2 linked regions of the Homo sapiens genome follow. The protein of the gene in region 2 purifies or fractionates together with the protein of the main gene of each other region. This does not show direct contact. Each region holds a gene or a part of one and is shown on either strand. Other genes may lie near its edges.

Region 1 (3,650 bases), on a different chromosome or scaffold from region 2:
ATAAGATTTTTGACTAATCAGGAAATCTAGACCAGGAGTGGTGGCTCACACCTGTAATCCCAGCACTTTGGGAGACCAAGGTGGGAGGATCATTTGAGCCTAGGAGTTCGAAAACAGCCTGGACACCATAGTGAGACCCTGTCTTTACAAAAAACTGAAAAATTAGCCAGGTTTGGTGGCATGCACCTGTGGTCCCAGTTACTCTGGAGGCTGAGGCGGGGGGATTGCTTGGCCTGGGAGATTGAGGCTGCGTTGAGCTAGGATCATGCCACTGCACTCCAGCCTGGGCAACAAAGCAAGACCCTGTTTCAAAAAAGAAATCTACGTTTATGAAGATAAGTTTGTTTCCCAAGTTTAAAAAAAAAAAAGGCAATCTTAGCCAGGTGCAGTGGCTCACGCCTGTAATCCCAGCACTTTGGGAGACCGAGGTGGGTGGATCACGAGGTCAAGAGATCAAGACCATCCTGACCAACATGGTGAAACCCCATCTCTACTAAAAATACAAAAAAATAGCTGGGCGTGGTGGCGGGCACCTGTAGTCCCAGCTACTTGGGAGGTTGAGGCAGGAAAATGGCGTGAACCCGGGAGGTGGAGCTTGCAGCAGTGAGCCGAGGTCGCGCCACTGCACTCCAGCCTGGGCGACAGAGCAAGGCTCCATCTCAAAAAAAAAAAAAAAAGGCCATCTATGTGAGATAGTGAACATTACCGTGGCTTGGCATTTTTGTTGGCTTGTACCTAGCCCAGGTGAATAGATTATTTACAGTAAGTTTTCTGGTATGTTAAAAGTAGCTCATCCCCACTCTTACCAACTTTGAGGACTCTGGAAGGTTTCAAGGTGCCAGATTGAGAGCTAATCAACTATTTCAGTTTCTTCATCATATAGATGAAATAATGGTCAGACAGAAGGCCACATGATAATTGGTGACAGACTAGAACCTGTCACCAGTTCTGAGCTTTTTCCACTAGAGCAGTGGTGTCCAATATTTTGGCATCCCTGGGCCACATTGGAAGAAGAATTGTCTTGGGCCACACATAAAATACACTAACATTAACAATAGCTGATAAGCTTAGAAAAAAAAAATTGCAAAAAAAAATCTCATAAATTTTTTTTTTTTTTTTTTGAGACGGAGTCTCACTCTGTCACTAGGCTGGAGTGTAGTGCAATGGCATTATCTCGGCTCACTGCAACCTCTGCCTCTCGGGTTCACGTGATTCTCCTGCCTCAGCCTCCCTAGTAGCTGGGATTACAGGTGCCCGCCACCACACCCGGCTAATTTTTTTGTATTTTTAGTAGAGATGAGAGATGGGGTTTCACCATGTTGGCCAGACTGGTCTCGAACTCCTGACCTCATGATCTGCCCGCCTTGGCCTCCCAAAGTGCTGGGATTATAGGTGTGAGTCACTGCACCTGGCCTTTTTTTTTTTTTTTTTTGAGACAGGTTCTTGCTCTGTTGCCCAGGCTGGGATGCAGTGGCATGATCTTGGCTCACTGCAATGTCTGCCTCCCGGGTTCAAGCAATTCTCATGCCTTGGACTCCTGAGTAGCTGAGACTACAGGCAAGTGCCACCAGGACTGGCTAATTTTTTTAATGTTTTTAGTAGAGACGGGGTTTCACCGTGTTGGCCAGGCTGGTCTCAAACTCCTGACCTCAGGTGATCCATCCGCCTCAACCTCCCAAAATGCTGGGATTACAGGCTTGAGCCACTGCGCCCAGCCCATAATAGTTTTTTTTTTTTTTATAATTATTTTTCATTTAACATTCAGCTGTTACCAAAATCTCATAGTGTTTTAAGAAAGTTTATGAATCTGTGTTGGGCCACATGTGGCCCAGAGACCATGGGTTGGACAAGCTTGCACTAGAGCATCTGAGCTTTTGAGGGCTCAAGGGATGAATACATCACAGATGCACTTGGTTTTGAGGGCTTCCTACATGTCAGCCTCGCCTGTGCTTCTCATTCCTCCCCAGATTTTTGGATTCCTGGTTTGCATGGGGGTGATCCTGGCCATTGGCAATGCCATCTGGGAGCACGAGGTGGGGATGCGTTTCCAGGTCTACCTGCCGTGGGATGAGGCAGTGGACAGTGCCTTCTTCTCTGGCTTCCTCTCCTTCTGGTCCTACATCATCATCCTCAACACCGTTGTGCCCATTTCACTCTATGTCAGGTATGTGCCTTCTCTGACCTGGGGTCTCTCCAGGGAGTCAGGCGGTCCCATAGAACTTTTCTTTTCTATGAAGATGAAGTCCTTGAGAAGTAACGAGAAGTCCTCTTCTTCCTGTACTGTAAACATTTGATGTTATCTGTTTATCTTTGTGGGCAGAGCAAACTTTTTACCACAGTTTCCTGGTACTTGGGACTGTATTAGAGAAAAAAAAATATTGATTTATTCAGCACCTATTTATTACATGCCTACTGTGTACAAAGAAGTGTGCTAGGTGCCATCACAAATAAAAGATGAATTAGGAATGGATCTCCTTCCTTCTAGGAGCTTACGTCTAGTAAAGGAAGGAAAATCTAAACACATTATAAAACAAAATAGGAACCAGTGCTGTAGAATTCGACCTAGAGTCTTCTATGTGAAGCTTGGGGATACAGAGATGTATAAGGTGGCCTCTGCCTTTAGCAGCAGCAGATGGATAGGTCGAGGAGGGGAGATCTGGACAGTGTCAGACTGAGATACCATGTGGGAGGCACAGGGTGCCCGGGGACTGGGAGAGTGTCGCTCCCTAAGCAGGTAGGCAGAGAGGGAGAGATGGCATTTGCTCTGGGCTTTGAGTGGTGACTGGGCTGGATGAAGGTGGAGCCACAATGGAGAGGAGGCTGAGAGGGCTGGAAGCAAAGGTGTGGAGATGGGAGCCTGGGAATGGCCTATGGAAATAGTTGGCCAGGGTCTTGGGCCAAGAGCAAGAGCTGGAAACATAGCTTGCTCCTGATTGTGGAGGCTTTTGAATATTTGCCTGTGGACTTTGTATTTACTAACCATTAAAAGTTATTGAAAAGACTGGGCACGGTGGCTCACACCTGTAATCCCAGCACTTTGGGAAGCCAAGGTGGGCGGATAACGAGGTCAGGAATTCGAGACCAGCCTGGCCAACATGTTGAAACCCCGTCTCTACTAAAAATACAAAAATTAGCCAGGTGTGGTGGTGGTTGCCTGTAATCCCAGCTACTTGGGAGGCTAAGGTAGGAGAATCGCTTGAAACCGGAAGGTGGAGGTAGCAGTGAGCCAAGATCACGCCACTGCACTCTAGCCTGGGCAACGAGCGAAACTGTGTCTCAAAAAACAACGAAACAAACAAACAAACAAAAAAGTTTTTGAAGAAAGTCAAAAGAATGTATTCTGTATTCTAAAAATGCATTCTAAGTGTTACAGCTCTTTTAGAATTTGTCTAGCAGGTTTTCCAGTTTTCACTGGAACCCCTCCCCCACAAAAAGAAAAAAATGCATTCTAAAAAAAAACTAAAGAATGCTTTAGGAAGTATTGACTGGCAGTAGTGTACAGCATGAATAGGATCAAGGCAACATGTAGGATGTTTGAGGTAAAGAGAATGTTAGCAGGGACAGGCCAGTGAGAATGAAGGGGAGGATCGGAGGAAGACGAGGCAGGAGGAATGGCCAGGGGAAAGGAACTTTCTTGCTTAGTGCCTTGC
Region 2 (3,127 bases):
AGCCCTTTCCCTTCGTAGTCGTGGTGCCCAGGGCTTGGGCCGTGGGGCAGCACCACTCACCCACCCATGTCCTGCAGGTTCCTGTGATTTTGAGTCTGGCCTGTGTGGCTGGAGCCACCTGGCCTGGCCCGGCCTGGGCGGATACAGCTGGGACTGGGGCGGGGGAGCCACCCCCTCTCGTTACCCCCAGCCCCCTGTGGACCACACCCTGGGCACAGAGGCAGGTACGTGCCCACTGGAGCCAGGTGGGGAGGCACACACAGCCACCTGGCCTCCTGCTGCCCACCCACAGAGTACATGCCCCATCCAGAGGAGGCCCTGCTCACCGAGCCTCTGCTCGGGCCCTGAGGGCTGGCTCTGCCCATCAGCTGGGCATCAGCCTCCTCTTGTTCCCAGGCCACTTTGCCTTCTTTGAAACTGGCGTGCTGGGCCCCGGGGGCCGGGCCGCCTGGCTGCGCAGCGAGCCTCTGCCGGCCACCCCAGCCTCCTGCCTCCGCTTCTGGTACCACATGGGTTTTCCTGAGCACTTCTGTGAGTCCGGCTGGGCCAATGGGTGCCTGGGCAACGGGGGCAGCAGGGGTCCAGGAGCAGAGGTGGGGAGGTGGCCTCCCCAGCCCGCCCCTGGTTAGGCGTGCAGGAGCCCCAGGACCCCAGGCCTGACACGCCCTGGCCCTGCTCTCAGACAAGGGGGAGCTGAAGGTACTGCTGCACAGTGCTCAGGGCCAGCTGGCTGTGTGGGGCGCAGGCGGGCATCGGCGGCACCAGTGGCTGGAGGCCCAGGTGGAGGTAGCCAGTGCCAAGGAGTTCCAGGTGAGGCTGGCTGTGGGCAAGGAGCCTCCTCCTCCTCCACCCAGGGCCCACACAAACTCCTTTCCTTCTCCATCAGATCGTGTTTGAAGCCACTCTGGGCGGCCAGCCAGCCCTGGGGCCCATTGCCCTGGATGACGTGGAGTATCTGGCTGGGCAGCATTGCCAGCAGCCTGCCCCCAGCCCGGGTGAGCCCTGGGCTGCAGTGGAGGCACGGAGGAGGGCCCAAGGGGCCAGCCTGGCTCGGGGTTTGCCAGGCTTACCAGTGTGTGGTCCCAGGAGCTGCGAGCATGCTGCACCCAGACAGGACAAGAGAGCTGCCAGGCCCAGGCCCTGTGCCCTCCTCACTCTGCCCTGCTCACCCCTGGGGCCGCTGCCTGGGCTGGGCTGTCCCTGGGGTGCAGCCTCTGGGGCCTGCCCTGCCTGGCTGTGGCCTCTGTGCTCCCTGTGCCCACACCCAGGGCAAGGTCCATCCTGGAGGAACCGCCAGCCGGGTCAGGGCAGCCACTGACTGCTCTCACTTGGTGAGGGAAAGAATCTCGCCTGGGGCCATGAGCCCCACCAAGTCTGCAGACAGCAGCTGCCTGTCTGCCAGGCCCCATCCTTGTGGTAGCAGAACCAATACCCTCTGCCTTTGAAATAGGGGTGAACCCCAGGAGCCAGCAGAGGCTGAGGGACCATGCAGCCCCAGGCTTCCTCCTTAGCCCCAGATGTGGGGGCTGCTTTGGAGGGCTCACATGTCCCTATGGCCCACAGGGAACACAGCCGCACCCGGGTCTGTGCCAGCTGTGGTTGGCAGTGCCCTCCTATTGCTCATGCTCCTGGTGCTGCTGGGACTTGGGGGACGGCGCTGGCTGCAGAAGAAGGGGAGCTGCCCCTTCCAGAGCAACACAGAGGCCACAGCCCCTGGCTTTGACAACATCCTTTTCAATGCGGTAGGAGCCCCTGGGGATGGGTGGGCAGGAGCCTCTGTGCTCAGCTGTGACGCTGGAGGGCGGGCAGTGGCGGGACACAACCCCCCGGGGAGGAGCCCCCACCTGTGCAAGGCCCATCCTTGCCCTCCCTGCCCTGCCTCTCCCAGCCACCACTGTCAAAGCTCCTCCTCCTTGGCCGGGCGCGGTGGCTCACACCTGTAATCCCAGCACTTTGGGAGATTGAGGTGGGCGGATCACCTGAGGTCAGGAGTTTGAGACCAGCCTGCCCAACATGGTGAAACCCCGTCTCAACTAAAACTAGAAAAAATTAGCTGGGTATGGTGGCAGGAACCTGTAATCCCAACTACTCGGGAGGCTGAGGCAGGAGAATCGCTTGAACCAGGGAGGCAGGGGTTGCAGTGAGCGAAGATCGTGCCATTGCACTCCATCCTGGTTGACAAGAGCGAAACTCCGTCTCAGGAAAGAAAGAAAAAAAAAGCTCCTCTTCCTCCTCCTAGGATGGTGTCACCCTCCCGGCATCTGTCACCAGTGATCCGTAGACCACCCCAGACAAGGCCCCGCTTCCTCACGTGACATCCAGCACTTGGTCAGACCCTAGCCAGGGACCGGACACCTGCCCCGCCCAGGCTGGGACAGGCTGCAGGTCTCAGGATATGCTGAGGCCTGGGCGTTCCCTGCCCTGTGCTGACTCTGTTGCTCTGTGAATAAACACCCTGGCCCATGAGGGCAGCCCAAGCTCCCAGGGTGAAGTCAGTGTGTCCACACTTTACCAGCCAGTGAGGGTGGGGGCTGCAAGTGTTAAGTGACGTGCTAGGGGCGCCTGCTTGCTTCTGGATGCAGCTCAGGAACCAGAGACAAGGGGACCCTCTCTCATCAGGACACAGACCCACCCAGGACAAGGGCCGGGGCAGGCCCTACCAGCTAGGGGCTCTGCATCTATTGAGGACAACAGTGAAACTGACCCACAGCATCAGGGGCATGCAGAGGAGATGACCCTTAGGGGACAGGGTGCATGGAGCAGGCCTGGAAGGGAGAAGTGCCCCAGCTGGGCCCACTGTCTGTGGTATAGGCCTGAGCTGCCCCAGGGGCTGTGGGTCACAGTACCCAGGTCACCAGGTGCCCCAGGGCTGTGGGTCGCAGTGGCCAGCTAAGTGGGTGCCTCAAGGCTGCGGCTGAGCCCTTCCCTTTGGCCCCCATGCCTGAGCAGGAGGGTGACCCTGTGAAGCTGTCACTGGGCCTGGGGCACCAGCAGAGGACTGCCATCCTAACGCAGGGTCAACGTCACTAACCTCAGCTCCCAGAGCTCTGCTCCTCCATGTGGGTGACTTGGCCACTGCCCCATGGTGAGGGCCTGGTCTTGTGGCTCTGAGGCCTGGCTGTGGGTG

The links. The genes of interacting proteins can lie anywhere in the genome.
Region 1: the proteins of MAMDC4 (region 2) and ATP8B2 purify together in Homo sapiens (affinity purification with mass spectrometry; one large-scale study listed by BioGRID and IntAct). This does not show direct contact.

The regions. Positions count from the first base shown.
Region 1 is NC_000001.11:154,335,381-154,339,030, forward strand, and holds part of ATP8B2 (phospholipid-transporting ATPase ID), read left to right. Parts: intron 1-1,967; coding exon 1,968-2,164; coding exon of another isoform or gene 2,165-2,294; exon of another isoform or gene 2,295-2,466; intron 2,467-3,363; exon of another isoform or gene 3,364-3,422; intron 3,423-3,650. UniProt on the Homo sapiens protein: Catalytic component of P4-ATPase flippase complex, which catalyzes the hydrolysis of ATP coupled to the transport of phosphatidylcholine (PC) from the outer to the inner leaflet of the plasma membrane.
Region 2 is NC_000009.12:136,858,323-136,861,449, forward strand, and holds the end of MAMDC4 (apical endosomal glycoprotein precursor), read left to right. Parts: intron 1-77; coding exon 78-224; intron 225-396; coding exon 397-531; intron 532-682; coding exon 683-810; intron 811-886; coding exon 887-995; intron 996-1,563; coding exon 1,564-1,742; intron 1,743-2,239; coding exon 2,240-2,281; 3' UTR 2,282-2,477; downstream 2,478-3,127. UniProt on the Homo sapiens protein: Probably involved in the sorting and selective transport of receptors and ligands across polarized epithelia.